7 linked regions of the Homo sapiens genome follow. The protein of the gene in region 6 purifies or fractionates together with the protein of the main gene of each other region. This does not show direct contact. Each region holds a gene or a part of one and is shown on either strand. Other genes may lie near its edges. The genes, in order: ASF1B, ARID4B, SAP130, SUDS3, ING2, RBBP7 and BRMS1L.

Region 1 (3,500 bases), on a different chromosome or scaffold from region 6:
GCCCCTCCAGAAAAGCTATTAGGTTTCAGACGGTGACAGCAGAGTATCGCACCAAGTGTGGGGTCCTGTGCAGCTGCCTGGGTTGCACACCCAGGAGGCCAGTCCTGACTGTTGAGTAGATAGGGCCTGTCAGTGGATTTAGTAGTGGTGGCTGAAGGGGTTAGATAGGATGTGGTAGCTTGGATTAGGGCGGTAACAGCAGTGATGGAGGTAAGGGAGTGTATCCGAGCAGAGGATCCTGAAAAATCACCTGGAGAACTCAGAATCTCCATTTGTTTTTTCTTTCTTCTTTTTTTTTTTTTTTTTTTTTGAGATGGAGTCTCACTGTCACCCAGGCTGGAGTGCAGTGGCGTGATCTCGGCTCACTGCAAGCTCCGCCTCCCAGGTTCACGCCATTCTCCTGCCTCAGCCTCCTGAGTAGCTGAGACTACAGGTGCCCGCCACCAGGCCTGGCTAATTTCTTGTATTTTTTAGTAGAGATGGGGCTTCACCATGTTAGCCAAGATGGTCTCAATCTCCTGACCTTGTGATCCGCCCACCTTGGCCTTCCAAAGTGCTGGGATTACAGGCGTGAGCCACTGCACCGGCCTTCTTTTTTTAAAGAGATAGCTTTTCCCTCTGTCATCCAGACTGGAGTGCAGTGGTGCAATCACAGATCACTGTAAACTCCTGGAACTCCTGGGCTCAAGCGAGCCTATTTTTTTTTTTTTTTTTTTTTAGAGACAGGGTCTCACTCTGTTGCCCAGGCTCGAGTGCAGTGGCGCAATCTCAGCTCACTGTAACTTCCGCCCCCTGGATTCAAATAATTCTCGTGCCTCAGCCTCCCGAGTAGCTAGGATAACAAATGTGCACCACCACATCCAGCTAATTTTTGTATTTTTTAGTAGAGACAGGGTTTCACCATGTTGGCCAGGCTAGTCTTTAACTCCTGACCCCAAGTGATCTGCCTGCCCCAGCCTCCCAAAGTGTTGAGATTACAGGTGTGAGCCATGGCACCTGGCCTCAAGTGAGTCTTCTGCTTCAGCCTCCCTAGTAGCTGGCACTACAGGCCTGCATCACTATGCCTGGTTAATGTTTTTTTTGTAGAGACAGGTCTCGCTGTCACCCAGAATGCAGTGCAGAGGTGCAATCATAGCTCGCTGTAGCCTCAAACTCTCAGGCTCAAGCAAGCCTCCTGCTTCAGCCTCCCAAGTAGCTGGGACGACAGGTGCAAGCCACCACACCCGGCTAATTTTTCTATTTTTTGTAGAGATGGGGGTCTCGCTATGTGGCCCAGGCTAGTCTGGAACTCCTGGCCTTAAGCAGTCCTCCCGCCTCTGCCTCCCAAAGTGCTGGAAGCCACCACACCCGGCCAGAATCTACATTTGACAACCCAGGTGGGGTGCTGCATGAGAGCCATTTAGGAGTTACAGTCCATCCTCATTATTCATGGGTTCCATATGTGCAAGTTCACCTACCTGCTAAGTTTATTTGTAACCCCAAGATGAACACCTGCTTGCTTTCACAGTCACTTGCAGACATGCACAGAGCAGGGAAAAACTGGAGTTACCTACCATGCCTGTTCCCACCTAGAGTTACCTACCACGCCTGTTCCCACCTGAGGTCAAACAAGGCAACACTCTGTCTTCTGGTCTCAGCTCTCACTGTGAATGAGCGTCCTTTCCTCAGCCTACTTAGTGCTTTTTTCCATGTTTTGTGCTTTTTGTTGGTGAGTTTGCTGTCTATGATGGCACCCAACGGTAGTGCTGAAGTGCAGTGTAGGATACAAGAAAGGCTTTATGGAAAATATGCGTATTAGAGAAGTTTCATTCAGGAGAGTTATAGTGCTGTTGGCTGTGAATTCAACATAAATGAACCACTGTATATATTAAATAAGGTATCTTTCCTTTTTTTCTGAGACAGAGTATCGCTGTATCACCCAGGCTAGAGTGCACTGGTGCGATCTCAGCTCACTGCAATCTCCATCTCCCAGGTTCAAGCGATTCTCCCGCCGCAGCCTCCCGAGTAGCTGGGATTACAGGCATGCGCCACCACACCTGGCTGATTTTTGTATTTTTAGTAGAGACGGGGTTTCATCACATTGGCCAGGCTGGTCTTGAACTCCTGACCTCAGGCGATCCACCCACCTCAGCCTCCCAAAGTGCTGGGATTACAGGTTTGAGCCATCATAGCCGTCCTGGTGTCTTTTCAACATAAACACACATACAAGTTTACGTATTAACCAGCTGACGAAAATGTGACTTCCAAGAATCTAACCCTGTATTTCCCCTGGGGCAATGGTTCAGTATTCACTAATTCAGTGTTCGCGGCAACTTTATAGAACGTAACTCTTGTAAATAATGGGAATTGCCTGTAAATCAGTGGCAGCTTTGACACAGAGGTGGGGGAAGGGAGGGCCTGACGGCCTCTGAGAGGTCAGATAGTTCCTGACAGTAGAACTAGGATTTGAACCTGAACTTTTAAATTGTTTTAATTGATTGATTGAGACTGGGTCTTACTGTTGCCCAGGCTGGAGTGCAGTGGTGTGGTCTTGGCTCATTGTAGCTTCCATCTCCCAGGCTCAAGTGATCCTCCCATTTCAGCCTCCCAAGTATCTGAGACTACAGGCGCACACCACCATGCTCTGCTGATTTTTACATTTTTTGTAGAGATGCGGTCTCACTATATTGCCCCAGCTGGTCTCAAACTCCTGGCCTCAAGCAATCCTCCCACCTCGGCCTCCCAAAGTGCTGGGATTACAGGTGTGAGCAACTGTGCCCGGCCTCTATGTTTTTAATACTTGTTTTTTTCTTTTTTAGAGACAGGGTCTCACTGTGTTGCCTAGGCTGGAGTGCAGTGGCTCACTGCAGCCTCAGACTCCCGGGCTCAAGCAATCCTCTCACCTCAGTCCCTGGAGTAGCTGGGTCTATAGGCGTGAGCCCGTGCCCAGCTGAACTTGAACTTTTGATTCCTGAAGCACTCTGTGGGATTTCAGGTAAAAGAGGATGTTTCTAGGAATCAAGGGCTAAGGCCTAAGGCCTCATCTTTCTTACCTGAAAGACAAACATGTGTCTCCCTGCTGGCACAGGGCCCACCAGCACCGAGTCTAGGATCTGATCAAATTCCTCACTCTCAGCCGAGCCAACATAAATGATCTTCCACTCCAGGTCTGCAAAGATATAGGAGGGTTAACTAATTGAAATAGCTCAACAGCAAGAAGGCAGGGATAGGCTCTTGTATTTTTTTTTTTTTTTGAGATGGAGTCTCGTTCTGTCACACAGGTTAGAATACAGTGATGCGATCTCAGCTCACTGCAACTTCCGCCTCCCAGGTTCCAGTGATTCTCATACCTCAGCCTCCCGAGTGGCTGGGATTATAGGTGCCCGCTGCCACGCCTAGCTAATTTTTTTTTTCTTTTTTGAGATGGAGTTTCACTCTTGTCACCCAGGTTGGAGTACAATGGTGTGATCTTGGCTCACTGCAATCTCTGCCTCCCAGGTTCAAGCGATTCTCCTGTCTCA
Region 2 (3,500 bases), on a different chromosome or scaffold from region 6:
TAGTAGAGACGGGGTTTCACTGTGTTAGCCAGGATGGTCTCAATCTCCTGACCTCATGATCCACCCACCTCAGCCTCCCAAAGTGCTGGGATTACAGGTGTGAGCCACTGTGCCCGGCCCTGAATTCTACTTCAAAAAGGCTCAGATCTATCCTCTCTGCTCCACTTCCAATGCATTAGTTCAGGCCCTTATTCATTTTCCACTTGGACTTCTTACCTGGAATTTCCATCCTTACATTCAGCTCTCCCCTTGTTTTTGCAGTGGCCTGATCTCAGCTCACCGCAACCTCCAGCTCCTGGGTTCAAGCAATTCTCAACAACTTTCAATGGTTCCATGTAGTTTTCAAGAAAAAATTTTTTTTTTTTTGAGACAGAGTATTGCTCTTGTCACCCAGGCTGGAGTGCAATGGCATGATCTCGGCTCACTGTAACCTCCACCTCCCGTGTTCAAGCTATTCTTCTGCCTCAGCCTCCCTAATAGCTGGCATTACAGGCTCACACCACCATGCCCTGCTAATTTTGTATTTTTAGTAGAAACAGGGTTTCACCATGTTGGCCAGGCTGGTATAGAACTCAGGTGATCCACCTGCCTCAACCTCCCAAAGTGCTGGGATTACAGGTGTGAGACACCATGCCTGGCCAAGAAAATTTTCGACTCCCTCACTCAGCTTCATCTCCCACCACTGCCCTTTTATTCCTACCCAAACATATCATGCTTTAAGTTAATTCAGTCACACCAAATTACTTACAGTTTCCAGATACTTCACCTTGTTTCGTTCATTTTCCAGTACGTTATCCTCTATCTGAAAAACTTTTCTTCCCTTCTTTGCCTAGCAAAAGCCTTCGCACTCAGCTTAGATGTCAACTCCACCAGAAAACTTTCCATAGCTCTCTGATTTAGCTGTCCTCTTCTGTCCTCTCATAGCATTTCCTACAATTATTTTATGTTGGAATACTCATAAATAGATATGCTAGGAGTTTTGCTTTATTTATCTGCATCTTCTGCTACACTGTGGGCTCCCTGAAAGCAGGTCAGATGCCTCACCCACCTTCATTCTATATTACCTGATATATGAAACGGGTTGTTGTTAAATGAATGACTTATGAAAGGGGTGAGACAGAAGGAAGAGGGGGAAGGAAAAGAACAGAGAGGGGGGAACGAACTGACAGAGTGGATAGGGAGACAAACAAAGGTAGAGGTAGGGGGAGAGAGAGAGAGAACATGTACACACACACAGGGCATTAAAAAAGGGAATTTGTAATCAATCCATTATTTTTTCATGTGGCCTAAGCCAATCATTGTTGAAGAAAGAAAAGTACATCTGGAAAATTCAATCTACGTGGATTCTAAATATAACCACCTTTTTTTTTTTTTTTTTCCTGAAATGGGGTCTCCCTGTCACCCAAGCTGGAGTGCAGTGGTGCCATCTCGACTCACTGCAACCTCCACCTCCTAGGTTCAAGCGATCCTACCTCAGTCTCCTGAGTAGCTGGGAATACAGGCATGCGCCACCATGCCCAGCTAATTTTTTTATACTTTTAGTAGAGACGGGGTTTTCATCACTTTGGCCAGGCTGGTCTTGAACTCCCAACCTCAAGTAATCCACCCACCTCAGCCTCCCAAAGTACTGGGATTACAAGCATGAGCCACCATGCCCGCCAAAGTATAATCATCTAAATCATTCCTCCTCTAAAGATTCTGGTATATCCAGCCCAACCAGCCCATTTTAATTGAAAATTTACTGCTACGTAATAAAAGACGTTAATAACATGTACAATATAGATACAGGAAAAAAAAGTTTGAGTTTAAAAAAAGTAAAAATCGGCCGGGCGCAGTGGCTCACGCCTGTAATCCCAGCACTTTGGGAGGCCGAGGCGGGCAGATCACCTGAGGTCAGGAGTTCGAGACCAGCCTGACCAATATGGAGAAACCTTGTCTCTACTAAAAGCACAAAATTAGCCCGGCATGATGGTGCATGCCTATAATTCCAGTTACTCAGGAGGCTGAGGCAGGAGAACTGCTTGAACCTGGGAGGCAGAGGTTGCAGTGAGCCGAGATCGCACCACTGCACTCCGGCCTGGGCAACAAGAGCAAAAGTCCGTCTTAAAAAAAAAAAGTAAAAATCAACCTGACATAATAAAAATAAGTCTTGGAATTATTTACAAACTTTAATAATCTACCACCTCCTTATAATGTGGTACTGCTGATTTTTATTTTATTTTATTTAGTTTTTTTTTTTTTGAGAGAGAGAGTTTCACTTTTTTCGCCGAGGCTGGAGTTCAGTGGCGCAACCTCAGCTCACTGCAACCTCCGCCTCCTGGGTTCAAGCAGTTCTCCTGCCTCAGCCTTCCGAATAGCTGGGATTACAGGTGTGTGCCACCATGCCCAGCTAATTTTGTATTTTTAGAAGAGACAGGGTTTTACTACGCTGGCCAGGCTGGTCTCAAACTCCCTTGACCTCAGGTGATCCTCCTACCTCGGCCTCCCAAAGTGCTGTGATTACAGGCGTGAGCCACCATGCCCAGCCGGCACCACTGATTTTTAAAAGTCTATCAAGAGCATGAAAAATAAATTCAACATAACACCAACATCACGATCTATGTTACAGCACAAATTCCTTATGTATTACGAATCATATTCCTCAAAAACATACTGTGAAAAAAGTAACATAGCATATATTAGACAGTAATGGGAATGTATTTGTTTACATAAATTCTTAAAGGTAGTACATGGGAAAACTGCTAAAACATACAACACTTCAACTTTAAAACAACACCTAAAAAGTATTACTACATAATCTAACTTTCAATCACCTCAATAAACTGTCACTTAATAAAATTTAAAGATTTGTTGTCGTTAATACAACAGACAATTCAAACTTAAAAGCTTGCTCCCAAGTACAAATATGTTTGGTAAGATCCAATAAATGGCATAAAACCTTCTGTAGCTCAATGATCATCGTAATACAGAAATTACACCAGGCACGGTGACTCTCGCCTGTAATCCCAGCACTTTGGGAGGCTAAGGCGGGAGAGTCACCTGAGCCCAGAAGTTCGACACCAGCCTGGGCAACACGGCAAAACCTCATCTCTACAAAAACTACAAAAATTAGCCAGGTGTGCCTGTAGTCCCAGCTACTCAGGAGGCTGAGGTGGGAGGATTATTTGAGCCCAGGAGGCAGCAGTTACAGATCGTGCCAGCCAGGGTGAAATAGTGAGACTCTATATCAAAAAGAAAAATAAAAAAGAACGAAAGAAATTGGGAACACACAGAAAAAGAAACAAAATTTAGGCCTAATACACTCAACATTAAATAGATTCTGAATTGCAATTTTTGCTAAAGCAAAATACAAATTACAAGAAGCTTCTCATCTTTTATCACATAAGAAATAAAGTTGTAAGAAATAAGCTAAGTTTTTAGTACTAATAATTACTAGCAAATTCTCTGAGATTTGCTATACTTATAATAACAGGAAGTACTTGTATGAAGTTAGAAATTTA
Region 3 (3,500 bases), on a different chromosome or scaffold from region 6:
TTTGAGACCAGCCTGGGCAACATGGCGAAACCCTGTCTCTACAAAAATACAAAAAATTAGCCAGGTGTGGTGGCATGCGTCTGTAGTCCCATCTACTCAGGAGGCTGAGATGGGAGGATGGCACTCAGGAGGCTGAGATGGGAGGATGGCACTCAGGAGGCTGAGATAGGAGGATGGCACTCAGGAGGCTGAGATGGGAGGATGGCACTCAGGAGGCTGAGATGGGAGGATGGCTTGAGCTCGGGAGGCAGAGGTTGAAATGAGTTGAGATTGCGCCGCTGCACTCCAGCCTGGGTGACAGAGCGAGAACCTGTCTCAAGAAAAAGAAAAAAAATCGCAAGACAGTAGAAATAAACTTAGAGCAATCCATGTTTTTAGCATGGTTTAATATGTGCTTATTATAGTTGTATTACAAGTGTGTATATTTATGCAATTAAAGTGTTTAATATGGTCTAAAATTGTCCTATATATTGAGGAACTGCCCAAGCTTTGATAATCTCAACATGGTCTTTATTATTAGACTGCTTATCTGCAACATGGTCTTTATTTTTAATACATAAGTCACAAATATTAATACTGAATATTTTTAAAGTTCAGTGATGATCTTTACTCAGTTTTTTAACTTATGTAACAATAAAATGATGATGATAATTATTTTTTGAGATGGGGCCTCACTGGGTTACCCAGGCTGGTTTCAGATTTCTGGGGCACAAGCGATCTTCCCACTTTAGCCTCCTGAGTGGCTGGGACTACAGGTGTGAGCCACCACATGGCTAAGATTAATTTATTTTTACCCTTAAGTTCTAATAGGTTGTGAGGTAATAAATGAATTTTGACTAGAAATTTTTACCTTTTATTGGAGACTTTACAACAATTGGAGATTGTTGGCAAAATCAAGTTAGCAAACGCAAGACCAGGTTTGCTTGGTTATAGCATAACTCAGCAGTTCTCCAAATGTGGTTCACAGGCCCTTATGGGGGTCTGCAGGGTGAAAAGTGCAGGGTTAGGTTTAAGGTTAAGGTTCATAATGTGTCCCTTTGGCAATGTCGACGTCTGCTCTAATGGAACAAAGACTGGAAGGCAAAGTGTCCGAGCCTCGTCAGAGCTGAGGCAGTGGCATCACACTGCTGTTCCCTGTGTGCTTTACCACTGTGCACACTTGCAGTTAACAGAAACAAAAAACAGCAGCTAGTTTCACTTAAGGTTGTCTGTGAAGAGGCAATATAAATTATTATTAAATCTCTTGAATACACATTTTCTTTGTTTTCTCTGTGATGAAATGGGAAGTATACATACCATACTTCAGCTCGATATTGACATGCTATCTGAGTTTTGGGAAACATACTGATTATTTTCCCAGGGAATATAACTAGAATAAATATAATAAACACTTTTTTTTTTTCAGGTGCAGCTGCTGCTGCTGTGATGTCCAGTTCTAAAGTAACCACAGTCCTGAGGCCGACCTCACAGCTGCCAAATGCTGCTACTGCTCAGCCAGCAGTACAGCACATCATTCACCAACCAATCCAGGCACGTCGGAGCCTGGGGTGCATTAAGGGCCTCATTGGAGTTATTCATTCTGCCAGGCACTAGGCACATCCTTGACCTCAGGGACTTTCCATCTAGTTGCCAAGACATAGGGAAGTTTGAAAGATGCACAGTGTCATGTGGCAAGCTGTAAGAATGCAGAGGAGAGATGGTGGGAAGCCTTCCTGTTGGAAAGGCTGTGCTAACGAGGAATCAGAGAAGTGAAGAGGAAGTGAAGGGGGAAATGAACAGTGGCAAGGAAGGGAGTGATGGTTGTAGACAGCAGTTAGTAAAGGCTAGCTAGGATTGAGGGATTTTAATTTGGATTGGGGGGATCTGTGGACTCCTAAAAGTTAGGTGTATATCTATGTATATTCCAAGAACATGGTCCATGCCATTCAGCTTTTTCTTAAGGAAATCTATGACCTCATTATTACTGAAGTATAATATATTTGCAGGAAATATAGTATCTATAAATTGGGTTCTCTAGGATATGGAGTATAAACTAGACTTTATATACAGTAGAGAGCCACTGCGTTTTTTTGTTTATTTGTTTTTGTTTTTTGAGACAGTCTCACTCTGTTGCCCAGGCTGAAGTGCAGTGGTGCGATCCCAGCTCACTGCAACCTCTGCTTCCTGGGTTCAAGCGATTCTCCTGCCTCAGCCTTCCAAGTACTTGGGACTACAGGTGTGCACCACCATGCCCGGCTAATTTTTATACTTTTAGTAGAGACAGGATTTCACCCTGTTGGCCAGGCTGGTCTCGAACTCCTGACCTCAAGTGATCTGCCTGCCTCGGCCTCCTGAAGTGCTAGGATTACAGGCGTGAGCTACTGTGCCCGGCCAAAAATCATTTTTGTCTTTTTAACACAATGGCTCTGTGTATCATTAAAGTAATACTGTTGAAAGATGAGATTAGGCCAGGCGCAGTGGCTCACACCTGTAATTCCCAGCATTTTGGGAGGCCAAGGCGGGCGGATTGTCTGAGATCAGGAGTTTGAAACCGCCTTGGGCAACATGGTGAAACCCTGTCTCTACTAAAATGCCAAAAAATTAGCTGGGCATGGTGGTGCGTGCCTGTAATCCCAGCTACCTGGGAGGCTGAGGTGGGAGAATCACTTGAGTCCGAGAGGCAGAGGTTGCAGTGAGCCAAGATCGTGCCACTGCACTCTAGCTGGGACGAGAGAGTGAGACTCCATCTCACAAAAAATAAGAAAGATAAGATTAATCTAGCTGAATCACATACAGGAGGTCTGTCCCCTTAAGCACTTTCAGGGGACAGACAGATGTATGAAACAACTGGGTTTAAGATAATAAGGAAGTCTTGATTATGATACTGGGTAGTATCTGTCTAGCCTACAGCTTTCAAGATAAATACTTTTCTGGCCAAGAAAACAGAGTCGGAGGAGTATTAGGCCTCTAGTAGTATATGTGATACATATGAAGGGTTGGAGGAAGACGAGAACCAAGACAAGGAGCTCCCGAGTGAGGAAGCTGGTGCTGTAGCCCTAGTGTGAGACACGCACCTGCACATGGTAGAAGCGGCAGGTAAAAGGGCTGTAGATGAAAAGCAAGGATGAGGAATGGGCAGAGCTCGGCCATTTAGATGCATGTTTCAGGGTTAAGAGCAAGGGAAGAATCAGAACTCAGGTGATTCGAAGAATAATGGTGGGTATGTGGATGAAGCCCAGTGTGGAGCTTATTTTTTAGAGGAAGATTTCACACGTAAGTGTGATAAGGGCACTCTGTCCATGTGAAAACATCCAGAAAGGATATGGGCACCCTGAACGATTACCTAGAAAAGAATACTGTTACCTTGAGTTGCCCTTGTACTCACTAACGTAGATGGCCTGAGAGCCAACAGCTCTATTCAGCAGCTGAGTAGGCCCTCTGTGGAGGTGCTGGGTTGGATGGCAGCGTAAAATGTCTACACCAGGACCAACAACAGACCTGTGGCAACTCTAGATTGAAGG
Region 4 (3,500 bases), on a different chromosome or scaffold from region 6:
TTCTGATGCACTTTAGATTTCCCCTTGAATTACACAAGGCATTCCATTTTAACCGAAATTTTTTCTGTATCATCAAATACTAAGGGAGGCCAGGCAAGGTGGCTCACGCCTGTAATCCCAGCACTTTAGGAGGCCGAGGCGGGTGGATCACTTGAGGTCAGGAGTTCGAGACCAACCTGGCCAACATGGTGAAACCCTGTCTCTACTTAAAAAAAAAAAATTAGCCAGACGTGGTGGTGGGCGCCTGTAATCCCAGCTACTCGTGAGGCTGAGGCAGAAGAATAGCTTGAACCCAGGGGCTGGAGGTTGCAGTGAGCCGAGATCATGCCACTGCACTCCAGCCTGGGCGACAGAGCAAGACCCTGTCTCTTAAAAAAAAAAAAAAAAAGGCTGGGCACATTGGCTTATTCTTGTAATCCTAGCACTCCAGGAGGCCGAAACAGGAGGAATGCTTGAGCTCAGGCATTCAAGACCAGCCTGGGCAACACAGTGAGACCTAGTTTCTACTAAAAATTTTAAAAATCAGCTGGGCGTGGTGGCACGTGCCTGTTGTCCCAGCTACTTGGAAGGCTGAGGTGGGAGGATCAATGGATTGAGCCCCAGAGGTTGAGACTGCAGTGAGCTGCTATCATGCCACTGCACTCCAGCCCAGGCAACAAAACAAGATACTGTCTCAAAAAAAAGTGGCTACTGTCTCAAAAAAAAGTGGCCTGGCACGATGGCTCAGGCCTGTAATCTCAACACGATGGGAGGCTGAAGCAAGCAGATCATCTGAGGTCAGGAGTTCAAGACCAGCCTGGCCAACATGGTGAAACCCCGTCTCTACTAAAAATACAACAACAAAAAAATCAGCCAGGCGTAGTGGCGCATGCCTGTAGTCCCAGCTACTCAGGAGGCTTAGCCATGACAATCACTCGAACTCAGGAGGTGGAGGTTGCAGTGAGACGAGATCATGCCATTGCACTCCAGCCTGGGTGACAGAGTGAGACTCTGTTTCAAAAAAAAAAAAAGTAATCCATCTTTATTCAGCACTGGTTAGACCTAGCTGAATTACCCCTTTGAGTTCCAAAGCACAAAAACAATGTGAGAATCCAGAGGATGGCCACAAAACATTTGCAAAAAGGACCTAAAGGGAAATGAATGTGGATCATCCTGTTAAAAGGTAAAGAACTTTAAAAACCTAACACATTCAACAAATATACATTAAATATACTTTATACCGTTTTCCATCTGGGTGTACGCTAAAAGTGAGTGAGGTTTTCGTTTCTCTGAATCTGTTCGGCTGTGGCTCTGTCTGAAGACAATGAGAAGGTTTGGGTGAGAGCAGGTGCAAACGTGGACAGAGCACTGGCCTGAGAGTCAGCATGTGGCCAGGCAGGGTCGCTCACGCCTGTAATCCCAGCACTTTGGGAGACCAAAGCAGGTGGATCACCTGAGGTCAAGAGTTTTGACACCAGCCTGGCCAACATGGAGAAACCCCGTCTCTATTAAAAATACGAAAATTATTAGCCGGGCATGGTGGCATGTGCCTGTAGTCCTTGCTACTCGGGAGGCTGAGGCAGGAGAATTGCTTGAGCCCAGGAGGCAGAGGTTGCAGTGAGCCGAGATCAGGCCACTGCACTCCAGCCTGGGCAACAAAGCGACACTCCATCTCCACACAAAAAAAATAAATAAATACAAAAATTAGCCGGGCATGGTGGTGCATGTCTATAATCCCAGCTACTTGGGAGGCTGAGGCAGGAGAATCACTTGAACCTGGGAGGTGGAGGTTGTGGTGAGCCAAGATTGCACCACTGCACTCCAGCCTGGGCAACCGAGCAAGACTCCATCTCAAAAAAAAAAATTAAACAAATAAAAATAAATAAATAAATAAATAAGAGTCAGCAGCCTGCTTTTCAATCGTGGCTTCTCTGAGCTCTCCAGGCCTCCGGCACCTTGTCTAGCACATTAGTGCAGTGAGTTTACACTCACCTGAGAACCCAATTGCTTCAAGACAACAATTACCCTCTCTGTGCATTGGTTTGCCCATTAAAAAAGAAAAGAAAAAAAAAGGTCCGGGCGCAGTGGCTCGCGCCTGTAATCCCAGCACTTTGGAAGGCCAAGGTGGGCGGATCACGAGCTCAGGAGTTCGAGACCAGCCTGGCCAACATGGTGAAACCCTGTCTCTACTAAAAATACAAAAATTAGCTGAGCGTGGTGGCGTGCACCTGTAATCCCAGCTACTCAGGAGGCTGAGGCAGGAGAATCATTTGAATCCGGAAGGCGGTGGTTGCAGTGAGGAGATCCTGCCACTGCACTCCAGTCTGGACGAAAGAGCAAGGCTCTGTCTCAAGGAAAAAAAAGAGTAAGTAGTAAAAGGTCCTCTCCTGTTGTACGGCCTCATTCCCTCCCCTGGGTCCATTGCCCTCAAGATTCTTTCTAGAGAGTACTCAACAAAGTCTTATAACGGGAAGACTGATTAAATGTAATTAATTTAAAGTGGAGAAATTGTAAACATACATGGTCTTTGGAAGCGCTATGGTCAAACTCATACACACAAGGTTACTACAGATTAAGTATCCCTTATCTGAAATGCTTGGGATCAGAAGTGTTTTGGATTTTTTCAAATTTTAGATTATTTGCAATATACTTACCAGCTGAGCATCCCACATCCAAAAATCTGAAATCTGAAATAGTGCAATGAGCATTTCCTTTGAGCATCATGCTGGCACTCAGGAAGTTTTAGATTTTGGAGCATCTGAGATTTCAGATTTGGGATGCTCAATCTATATAAAGATGTTGTCAATTCTATGTTCCAAAAAGACATAGGCATATCATACTCACTGTTCCTTCATTTCTACATAGTCTTCTTCATCATGCTTTGCCAGGTCAGTTTCACTAGCATCCTCAGTGTCTGAATAAAGTTAGGAAATAGGGGCTAGTTAAAATCATAATTCACGGAGTTGGCGTCACCTGACACAGAGTATGCACTCAATAAACTCCCGTAAAATCAATTTCTATTCAAGGCAGGCTTGCACAAAGCCATCAATGAAAAACATTACATACAGTTAGTAGGCCATCCCTATCTGCAAACACGAAACCTGTGGACACAAAAGGCCAATGCAAAGAATTTGAGTATCCTCAGGTTGTAGTATCCATGAAGTCCTGGAACCAGTCCCCCATAGATACCGAGGGACAGCCGTACTTCAGAAAAGAAAAGGCCATTTCCAACTTACAGTCAGATTTATGCAAAAAGCTTGCCTTTACCTGAAATGCAGCCACAGAATAGGGTGTCTCAGGCACAGGCAGTTATGGTGAAGGCTGCTACTTCTGCAGAAACAACAATGCTGGCAACTCAAGAAAGGAGATGCAGGCGTAAGACTGGACACTGCAGGCAGTCAAGCCTTACTCGCTGCTCCAGAAAAAAACTAGTATGTACATTCTCTTCTGATACATACCCAGTTGGAACCCTTCGCACATTTTACATCAGGATACACGGTTGTCCCTCAGTATCCGTGGGG
Region 5 (2,436 bases), on a different chromosome or scaffold from region 6:
AGATATTAGGTCTTAAAGAGAGCACACCTTCCAGGATTTTCCAGGTTCGTTTTCCCGTCAAGTCTAATCCAAACTTTGGCATTTCTATTAGGAAGTCGTTTCTTTTCTCCCATCTGCCAAGGCAGATTTACGTATGAAAAAGTGGTGACTTCTATGTAAGTCGCATCTGAAGGCTTTGGGGGTTTTGTCCATACTGATATTTTTAATGGTGTCAAGTAAAAAGCTCCATTCTGGTAACAAGGTTGTAATCACTAAAACAAAATGCCATATTCTCAAAAGGATTTCCTTACAACTCAGCTAAGTTATGGTGATGAGAAAGGATTTGCTAAATTCTTAATCATGCTGTCTAACATTTCTCACTCAAAAGGTAATAGAATCAACTAGCTCTAGTCATGAATCCAAATATTCTTAGGACAGAAGCTAACAAATATTGCACATTTACCCATCTCCAAACTCACCTTTAAACTATCTTTATACCTCAGAATGAAGGACAAAATTAATGAAAAGAGAAGTCATGTCATTATTAAAATCCTCACTATAGTGCAAATAGTAGAAATTTCCAAGGAATCTCGGAGATATTTAAGCCAACTCATTTTACAGGTGAATGACCTGACACCCAGACAAGGTGAAATGACATGCCTAAAAGTCACACAGGAGAGCTAGAAGAGAAAAAAAGCATTTTTTTTTCCCAAAACAAGCAGACAGGATTTTTCATGTTAATCAAAAAGAATCAAGATCATCAGATTAGGAAGAAATGAGGAATAAAACATACGTTACACACAGATTTAAAGAACTAGTCAATCTGCTGCCCCCAAAACCAAAACCTTCTCTAAACATATGGACATATATCCATCAAGATGCTTACCCTTCAAATATCAGAATCTTGGAAAATTCAATTTACAAATACATTAATTGCATTATGATGATGAAATAAGTTAATTAAATGTGAAAACATCAAACAGCACCAATACTAGAAGTTAAGACAGTAAATACACTATTATTTAAAATAGTCACTGATTGGGACAGAAATGAACAATAACCACTAGCAAAACCATTTAAAACAACTCTCTGACATAAAGGCAATATTTAAAGACTACTATATGCCCCTTTCCACTGATAGGCCTGTGGCTACGCATCCTGGCAGCAGGTCACATGGAAAATACTATTAATTAAGATGTATTTTTAAATTGTTCAACCTTGAGCCGTGATACTATATAACCCAAAGTTTGCCAATGTAAGCCAATGTATATTTTTGGTATGCTAACTACTCTTACCTGTCCCAATTAAAAGAAAACACAAAACAACTCCCTTATTAAGCACTAGACTAAGTATATCTACAAAGCAGCAGCAAGGCATTGACAAATGGGCTACTGACAGTGGATCAAAATGCTACTAAGCAAAAGACAGCAGCACGTACTCTCATAAGAGCACATTATTCCACATGGAATCCCAAATTACTCTTATCTCCAGTTCCTTAAACTCCTAGAAGACTAGAGATGAACAAGCCAACGTATAAATAGGACTAGGGAAAAAGCAGCTCAAATGGCATAGTGTCTGTATTTTAAAGTACCCAAGATCATTTGATGCTTAAGAGAAATCCCACTACATCTAACATTTTTTTAAGCATGTATAACTAAAATGCTAGTGAAACTTTTGTGTTTACCCAAAAAATAACATTGCAGTTTTAAGTGAAAATGAAATAGGCATGGTTTGTGAAATTTTTATAATGTTTACACCACCCTCTTCCTGTTCCCTGCTCCTTTCATCAGGTGATCTGAAGACTACCTGGTTGGAAATATTTGGTAACTCAGTGCAGAAAATTAAGGTCACAGACAAAGTACAACAACTTTTAATACACCATTAATACTAATGATTAAAAATTATTGCATAGTCTTATGCATTTACCCTAAAACATTTTCTGAAAGCAAACGAATTATATAAAAGACAAATAACCCTTTAAAATGTGGATGGCCTTTACTACCTCGATCTTCTATCCTTTTTTGTCTTTTCAGTACTTTTGTCCATTGTTTTCTCATTATCTCCCCTGCACTTTGGGCAATACCATTTCCCCTTTGGTTTATAGGTAAGTGAAACACATGAAAAGTGAAACCATTCAATTGGACACTGTTCATTGTCACATCCTATCATCTCCCCATAAGACACTTGGTTGCATAAGCAGTATGTAGGTTCATTAGGATCTATTGCAAACTCAACAGGTGAAGCTTCCCTTTCCTGCTTGGCCTTGGAGCGTTTCTTTTTCTTTGCTGACTTGGATTTCTTTTCTTTAGGTGGCTGATCATCACAGTCTTCAATCCCATTTGCCATGTGACATAAATCACGGCTTTCACTGGTCCGCTGCCTGCGGGGTCTTCTTGAAGATCTTTCTGGTTGGCTGGAATCCATCTTTGCTTTATCTGAGGCTCGTTCACTTTCAGC
Region 6 (3,500 bases):
CTTGTAACATAATTCAAAATAGCCCCAAAGTAGAAAGAACTCAAATGGTTCATCAACTGACAAATAAGCTAACTGTGGTATATCCATACAGTGGAATATTGTTCATCCATAAAAAGGAATGGAACATAAGTAATGTTACTTGAAAACATTATGCTAAGTGAAAGAAGCCAAACAGAAAAGGCCATATATGAGATTCCATTTACATGAAATACCAAGAACAGATAACTCTATAGAGACAGAAAATAAATTAGTGCTTACCAGGAGCTGGGGGAAGGCAGGGAATGAGTGGGGAGTCACTGCTTAATGGGTATGGAATTTCTCTTTCAGAGAGCGAATGAAAACATTCTAGAATTAGTGGCAATAGTTGTGCACCTTTGTGAATATACTAAAACCCACTGAACTGTACACTTAAAAAATACTTTATATTAATCAGGTCCCACAAACACTCTACAGTTTCCATTTTAAGGGCCTGGAGGGTCCTCTTTTAAATAATGGGAGGCCTTTTGCCTATGCTCCCTCCATTCTAAGGCTACTTCAAAAGAGCTCTGTGGAATCCGAAGACTCATACAGGGCAGTATGAAAACCATCTCTCTAAAGTCCTGGGGGAATGTTACCACAATAATCAGCAGTATTATCTTAGAAAACCTTTCATCTATATAGTACTCCTTCAGCACAGCTGTGACACGTCAGCTCTCACTATATGAACAAATTACAAAGAATACGTTTCTCACATGGTCATCAGATGCACTTAGGAGATGTCCACTCAAATTTGAATTCCAGGAGAGACCATAGCCTTCCTTCTGGTGACCTCTTAATCTGAGATCAGGATTACATTCTCCACTTGGGTCTAAGAAAAGATGAAAAACATTAAGTTATTCTCTGTTTATCAGAACTGGTGAGAATAAATTCTCACTCCTTCATTGAGTGAACCATTACAGCAACTGCACACGAACGAGATCTGGTCTTTAATACCCAATGCAAATTGAGCCTCATGACCATTAGATGATTGGTTTCTTTGGAAAACCTAATACTATCCCCAACACAAAAATATTAAAAACTATAGCTATCCTACAAATTTGGGCAGTGGTGACCGTATCCCCGCAACCCCCCAATTTTTTAGAAATATTTCTAACACAACAGGTCTGGTTGCTCAGTCCTTGCATGCCTCTAGGGTAGCCTGCAACCATAAATGACCCTTGGCCAACCCCTGGGAATGTGACCCTCAGAAAGTTCTTCACGTCACTGACTGATAAAGTTTTGTAAGCCCAGAGCAGTGGGGTATGCCATAGGGACCTGTCAAGACTTGTAGGATTGTTTAGCAAGATTCACAATGTATTTGGCTTCACTATTGGGGTCCTCAATTTTGTTACCATGGCTGGTCATAGAACAGGATGTGCCCACGCCAACAGACCTCCACAAAAATCCCAGATTCTGAAACTCAAATGGGCTGCCCTGGGTAGAGACATTTAGCACATGTTCCTATGGTTTGCTGCTAGAGACAAAACATGTCCCACGTGGCCCTGGATGGGAAGGACTCAGACGCCTGTAGCTAACCCCTCTGGACTTCCCCTGATGTGTATCTTTTTCTTCCTACTCTTGCTCTGGATTCTTTGCTGTAATAAACTTTAGCTGTTAGTATAAGCTGCTTTTAGGTAGTTCTGGCAAATCCCTGAACTTGAGGATGGTTATGGGACCCCCAAAGCAATTTTTAAACCTTTAAATATTATAAAGTATGCTACTTTGACCTTAAAAACATTACCAGTTTGAATCAAGAAAACTGCTCAAGTAATGACCTAACTCTATTATTACATACCTGGTTTAGCAGGGTGTTTTGTATAGTCAAAAACCAACACATCAGAAGATGGTGTTTTTGTAGCAATGATGTGAGGATTCTGCGGCATGTAACGAGCACGGTTTACTTCTCCTTCGTGATTGATTTTAATTTCACATTCAATTTTTCCTGTTACAGAACCAAAGCCACCAAATTCTAATGTGAGGAGAAAGAAACACACACACACACACTCAGGATTAAAATTCACAAATCACTTAGTTCAATCAACCTAACAGATTTTGACCTGGCAGAATACAACACAAACTGACAAGACAAAGACAGAAACATGCATAGAGAAAACCCAAAAATGTGGGTTCATTTGCCACATCAATTTATTCTTAAAGCCCATTTGCACTGGAAAATATTGGTAGCTGCCTTATGCAACTTAATTCAGTTCCACCTTGGATCTAAAACAACTGTCCTCTTTCAGTTATGAAGATGATATAGTTATTCACTGAAATTTCAAGTAACCATATAATAAGCAGACCAATAGCTTTTTAGTTCAAATACAACTCACTGTAAGTACTGCACTGAATTAGCATCTTATTTTAGGATTCATCAAAACAGGAAAGGTTTTAACCCTCCACAGTATGAACACCCTTTGAGTCTGAAGTCAGAAGCATCCTCAAATCAATCAGAAACCCACGCTAACCCCTACCTGTCCCTAAACACACATACATTGGCCCTGCCAGCATACTTGGTTTAACTGCTAGTGCAGTGCCAAGGTTAACCTCTCCGCCCATCTGGTGTGTGAATAAGACTATAGTATTAAATAATCATGAAAAAGGCCTTGTAAAGTAACAAAGTCATATAAAAAGTACGGTAACTTCCAAGAAGTAGCAACATGTTAGCAGAAAGAATACAAGTAGAGAACATCTAAGCAAATACAGCAAACAAGAACATTCTTTTTTGTGCTCATAGATAAAAAAACCTGAATTAGTTGCTGACGCTTAAAAAGATAGGAGGGTTCACATTACAATTGTGTTATTCTTCCTGACCTATATTGCCTTTTCTTTGCACATTCCATTTTAGCTCACCCTGTGTCTCAGGTCAGGGACAACTAACACAAATGCCTACTGGAGCCAGACAGGTAAGAAGTAAAATAGACCGGGGCCTGGAGCAACCACCAAAAGGAGCAAACCATTTCTCAGTTCCAGGCAGCTCCTTCTATGTGGAATGCTTAATGAACACTCGCTTCCATGTCTTAATATCAGTATCTAGCCGTTCCTCTCTGAAGCAAACATAGCTTACTATTTCAGTGTGGTTGAAAAAACCGTATCTCAAATCCACGATTACTCCAAAGCTCCTCTACCCACTACTCTCATGTGACCACATGCAAAAGGATCCTTTTTCCTCGTAGCACCTTCTGTTCCATGGTGTCAATGGAAGAAATGTGCCTCGGCATGCTAAGACCCCTCCTGATCCAATCGTCTCCTCCCTCCTGAGACTGCTCCAAATCTGCTCCACTTTGACCTTCAACATCCCATTCCATGGACTCCAGTGGCTCTAACCCTTCTGCTACAAAGATACTCAAGTTTCCTGATTCCTTTAGCTAAAACAACCTGAAGAGCTCTCCTTTAAAAAAAAAAGGGGGGGGGGCGGGGCTTCCAAGTAGGATTTACTTTGAACACAGAGTTTTGTTTTCTCAAACTTAAAATTTTGAAAAGTC
Region 7 (3,500 bases), on a different chromosome or scaffold from region 6:
TGTATATATTTTTGAAGGCATAGCCTTATAATTTATAATGAAAAACAGCAGTCTTCTGTCCTATTTTTAAATTCTGTATCCCAGTGGCAATTATATTTCTAACTTGTGTATCAGTTGCTTCTGGAATTTACCCTCATATTCCTTTCTTAAAAAAAAATTTTTTTATAGAGATGGGGGTCTTGCTATATTGCCCAGCTGGTTTTGAACCCCTGGCCTCAAGTGATCCTCCTGTTTTGGCCTCCCAAAGTGCTGGAATTATAAGTGTGAGCCACTGCGCCTGGCCCTCATATTTCTAAATAAAGCAGTTTTAGACATTATCTATTGGTTTCCTATTATGGAAGCTGAGGATTTTTCTGTTTCATTCTTCTAATACTGTTGTGTTACAGTTTTTGTTTTAAATTATAAATATTGTTTACTGAGTCAAGAGTTACATTATGTTTAAAATTTTTCTTGTGTATTTTTTTAAACTTTGGAATTAATAATTGCTTCATTTATTGTTTGTTAGTTTTCTCTGTGTTTATCAATTCTTCCTACAGACCTTAGCAGATCTATGAGGGCCTCCTAATGCTGTTTTTTTTTTTAATTAAGCTAAACATGTACAGTTGTATTGATTTTTCATGAAGCCTGAGTATTCCACAAAATAAAGAGCATGTTACCTAATGGACTCAAGAAAAGTAAAAAAAAAAAAAAAAGCACTGGACCTCTCATAAGTTTTCAACTGTATGAAGATTTAAACTCCTGTCCAGTAAAGGTCAAAACTGCTTCTCGTTTTAAAGTTAGGTGTAAACAGTGTCTTCTGATGACTTCTAGAATGACCTAGAAAACCCCCTCATATTTGCTTCTTTCAGACACTGAAGTCCTAACGCTGTTTTCTCTGCGATCAAACTTATCAGATAATCCATCAGCCTCATTTTCTTCTGAAGGGCTCCCTCCTGGAAGCAACCCCTCTATCCCTCGTGTCCCCTATCCTCCTGCTCCATCTTTCATTTGGAGGCCAGCTGCATCTGTCTTCTTGGGGCATCTCTTTACCAGCAACCTGGATGTCCCCTTCACCTCTCCTCTGCTAGCATCTTATTTTCTCCTTAAGTTTGGTAGAGTGTATCTTTCAGTAGCATCCTGACAAAGGATTTCTAGAAGTTAGTTTTTTGAGATTTCTTGTATTGCTTGTCTATTGCTTTATAATTAATTACTCCAAAACTTAGTGGCTTAACACAACAATAAACATTTATTATTTTGCAGTCTCAGTGGCCAGGAATTTGGGAGCAACTTAGCTGGATGGTTCTGGCTCAGGGAATCCCAAGAAGTTGCAGTGAAGATATCAGCCAGGGATGCAGTCATCTCAAGGCTTGATTGGAGGCTGGAGGATCCGCTTCTAAGGTGACTCACTCGCAGGCTGGCAAGTTGTTGCTGGTTCTTGGTGAGAAGCCTTAGAGAACCCATGTGAGAACATGGGCCTCTCCACAGGCTGATTGAGTGTCCTCATAACCTGGTACCCAGGTTCTTCCAGACTTAGTGATCCAAGATAGCAAGACAGAGGTGACTGTTTTTATGGCCTAGATTTCTGCCAGATTTTGTTCACTAGAAGTCAGTTGCTATATCTTACCCATTTTTTTTTTTTTTTTGAGATGGAGCCTTGCTTAGTCACCCAGGCTGGAGTGCAGTGGTGCAATCTCGGATCACTGCAACCTCCACCTCTTGGGTTCAAGTGATTCTCCTGCCTCAGCCTGCCGAGTAGCTGGGATTACAGGTTCCTGCACCACGCCCGGCTTATTTTTTCCTTTTTTGTAGTAGAGACTGGGTTTCACCATGTTGGCCAGGCTGGTCTTGAACTTGTGACCTCAAGTGATCCGCCAGCCTCAGCCTCCCAAAGTGCTGGGAGTATAGGCGTGAGCCACCGTGCCTGGCCCATCCTACCCGTATTCAAGAAAGAGTATTAGTCTCTACCATTTGAAATTAGGAGTATCAAAGGATTATTGGACATGTTTTAAAACCACCACATCTTTCCTGTCTGAAAACATCTTGACGCTCACACTTAAGAGTATGGAATTCTAGATAGAAATCATGTTTCCTCAGAATTTTGAAGGCATTGTTCCATTATCTTCTAGCTTCCAGCGTTGCTTTTGTAAAGTCTCTTACCATTTTGATTCCTGATCCTTTGTACATGACCTGTTTTCTTCCTGAATACTTTTAGGATCTTCTCTTTATTCTTGTCTTGGTATTGTGGGATTGTGAGATGATGTGCTTTGATGTGGTCTTTTTTCGTTCATTGTGCTGGATACCCAGAGGAACTTTTGATTTTATGTATTTATTTATTTGAATTTTTTTTTAAAGAGACAGAGTCTCGCTCTATTGCCCAGGCTTGAGTACAGTGGTGCAATCATAGCTCATTGCAGCCTCCAACTCCTGGGCTCAAGTAATCCTCCTGCCTCAGTTGCCTGAGTAGCTGGGACTACAGGCCCACGCTGCCATGCTTAGCTAATTTTAAAAAATATTTTGTAGAGATGGGGTCTCACTGTGTTGCCTAAGCTGGTCTCAAACTCCTGGGCTCAAGTGATCCTCCTGCCTCCGTATCCCAAAGTGCTGGAATATAGGTGTGTGCCATTGTGCCTGACCAGATGAACTGTTTAATAAAAAAATTCGTATCTTCAGTTCTGGGAAATTTCTTATATATTGTTTCTTTAATATTTTCTTTTAGCTTTCATTTTATAAATTTAATCCTTTAGTCCATTTACTTTTATGTGTAATGTAAATTGTATAATGTAAAGCAAAAAATATTCAGGATATAGTTAAAATCATTTTTCTTTTTTTTTGAGACAGAGTCTTGCTCTGTCACCCAGGCTGTAGTGTAGTGGCATGATCTCGGCTTACTGCAACCTCCACCTTCTGGGCTCAAGCGATTCTAGTGCCTCAGCCTCCTGAGTAGCTGGGATTACAGGTGTCTACCACCATGTCTGGATAATTTTTTTGTATTTCTGGTAGAGTAGACAACGAGGTTTCACCATGTTGGCCAGGCTGGTTTTGAACTCCTGACCTCAAGTGATCCACCTGCCTCAGCCTCCCAAAGTGCTAGGATTACAGGCATGAGCCACCGTGGCTGGCCTAAACTCATTTTTCTCTTGTCATTTATTGTCAGATTCCCAGATGATTTAAAAAGTCACCTTTGTCATTTCCGCATAGCCAGAGTCTGTTTCTAAGTTTTAAAATTCTACTCTGCATTTTTTTTATTCCAGTGCAGTATGCTTAAAAAAAAAAAAAAAAAACTATTGTAGCGTTTTAATGGGTCACTCTCTGATAATAGCCTATGAAAATCTTCCAGGGCTCCAGTCCTGATAGAAGTTGAGAATTGTGAGGTATGTTAAGTCAGGGAACTGCCAAAGAGGAGTTGGTTCTGAATACAGGTCAGTGTGAGGTCGGTACAATAATGGAAGCTTGGGGCCACTTTCCTGGGGCTTTTTAAAGCTCTCCTGATGAGAAACAGCATAGGCGTCAGCCTGGGAAAG

What was found.
Region 1: the proteins of RBBP7 (region 6) and ASF1B purify together in Homo sapiens (affinity purification with mass spectrometry; 5 studies listed by BioGRID and IntAct, with this or other methods). This does not show direct contact.
Region 2: the proteins of RBBP7 (region 6) and ARID4B purify together in Homo sapiens (affinity purification with mass spectrometry; 5 studies listed by BioGRID and IntAct, with this or other methods). This does not show direct contact.
Region 3: the proteins of RBBP7 (region 6) and SAP130 purify together in Homo sapiens (affinity purification with mass spectrometry; 5 studies listed by BioGRID and IntAct, with this or other methods). This does not show direct contact.
Region 4: the proteins of RBBP7 (region 6) and SUDS3 purify together in Homo sapiens (affinity purification with mass spectrometry; 5 studies listed by BioGRID and IntAct, with this or other methods). This does not show direct contact.
Region 5: the proteins of RBBP7 (region 6) and ING2 purify together in Homo sapiens (affinity purification with mass spectrometry; 5 studies listed by BioGRID and IntAct, with this or other methods). This does not show direct contact.
Region 7: the proteins of RBBP7 (region 6) and BRMS1L purify together in Homo sapiens (affinity purification with mass spectrometry; 6 studies listed by BioGRID and IntAct, with this or other methods). This does not show direct contact.

Annotation. Positions count from the first base shown.
Region 1 is NC_000019.10:14,123,090-14,126,589, forward strand, and holds part of ASF1B (histone chaperone ASF1B), read right to left. Parts: intron 3,149-3,500; coding exon 3,033-3,148; intron 1-3,032. UniProt on the Homo sapiens protein: Histone chaperone that facilitates histone deposition and histone exchange and removal during nucleosome assembly and disassembly. Cooperates with chromatin assembly factor 1 (CAF-1) to promote replication-dependent chromatin assembly.
Region 2 is NC_000001.11:235,321,680-235,325,179, forward strand, and holds part of ARID4B (AT-rich interactive domain-containing protein 4B), read right to left. Parts: intron 1-3,500. UniProt on the Homo sapiens protein: Acts as a transcriptional repressor. May function in the assembly and/or enzymatic activity of the Sin3A corepressor complex or in mediating interactions between the complex and other regulatory complexes.
Region 3 is NC_000002.12:128,011,060-128,014,559, reverse strand, and holds part of SAP130 (histone deacetylase complex subunit SAP130), read left to right. Parts: intron 1-1,405; coding exon 1,406-1,530; intron 1,531-3,500. UniProt on the Homo sapiens protein: Acts as a transcriptional repressor. May function in the assembly and/or enzymatic activity of the mSin3A corepressor complex or in mediating interactions between the complex and other regulatory complexes.
Region 4 is NC_000012.12:118,379,555-118,383,054, reverse strand, and holds part of SUDS3 (sin3 histone deacetylase corepressor complex component SDS3), read right to left. Parts: intron 2,894-3,500; coding exon 2,824-2,893; intron 2,086-2,823; exon of another isoform or gene 1,367-2,085; coding exon of another isoform or gene 1,221-1,366; intron 1,196-1,220; exon of another isoform or gene 1-1,195.
Region 5 is NC_000004.12:183,510,494-183,512,929, reverse strand, and holds the end of ING2 (inhibitor of growth protein 2), read right to left. Parts: coding exon 1,978-2,436; 3' UTR 501-1,977; downstream 1-500. UniProt on the Homo sapiens protein: Seems to be involved in p53/TP53 activation and p53/TP53-dependent apoptotic pathways, probably by enhancing acetylation of p53/TP53. Component of a mSin3A-like corepressor complex, which is probably involved in deacetylation of nucleosomal histones.
Region 6 is NC_000023.11:16,856,863-16,860,362, forward strand, and holds part of RBBP7 (histone-binding protein RBBP7), read right to left. Parts: intron 1,988-3,500; coding exon 1,814-1,987; intron 848-1,813; coding exon 732-847; intron 1-731. UniProt on the Homo sapiens protein: Core histone-binding subunit that may target chromatin remodeling factors, histone acetyltransferases and histone deacetylases to their histone substrates in a manner that is regulated by nucleosomal DNA.
Region 7 is NC_000014.9:35,857,338-35,860,837, forward strand, and holds part of BRMS1L (breast cancer metastasis-suppressor 1-like protein), read left to right. Parts: intron 1-3,500. UniProt on the Homo sapiens protein: Involved in the histone deacetylase (HDAC1)-dependent transcriptional repression activity. When overexpressed in lung cancer cell line that lacks p53/TP53 expression, inhibits cell growth.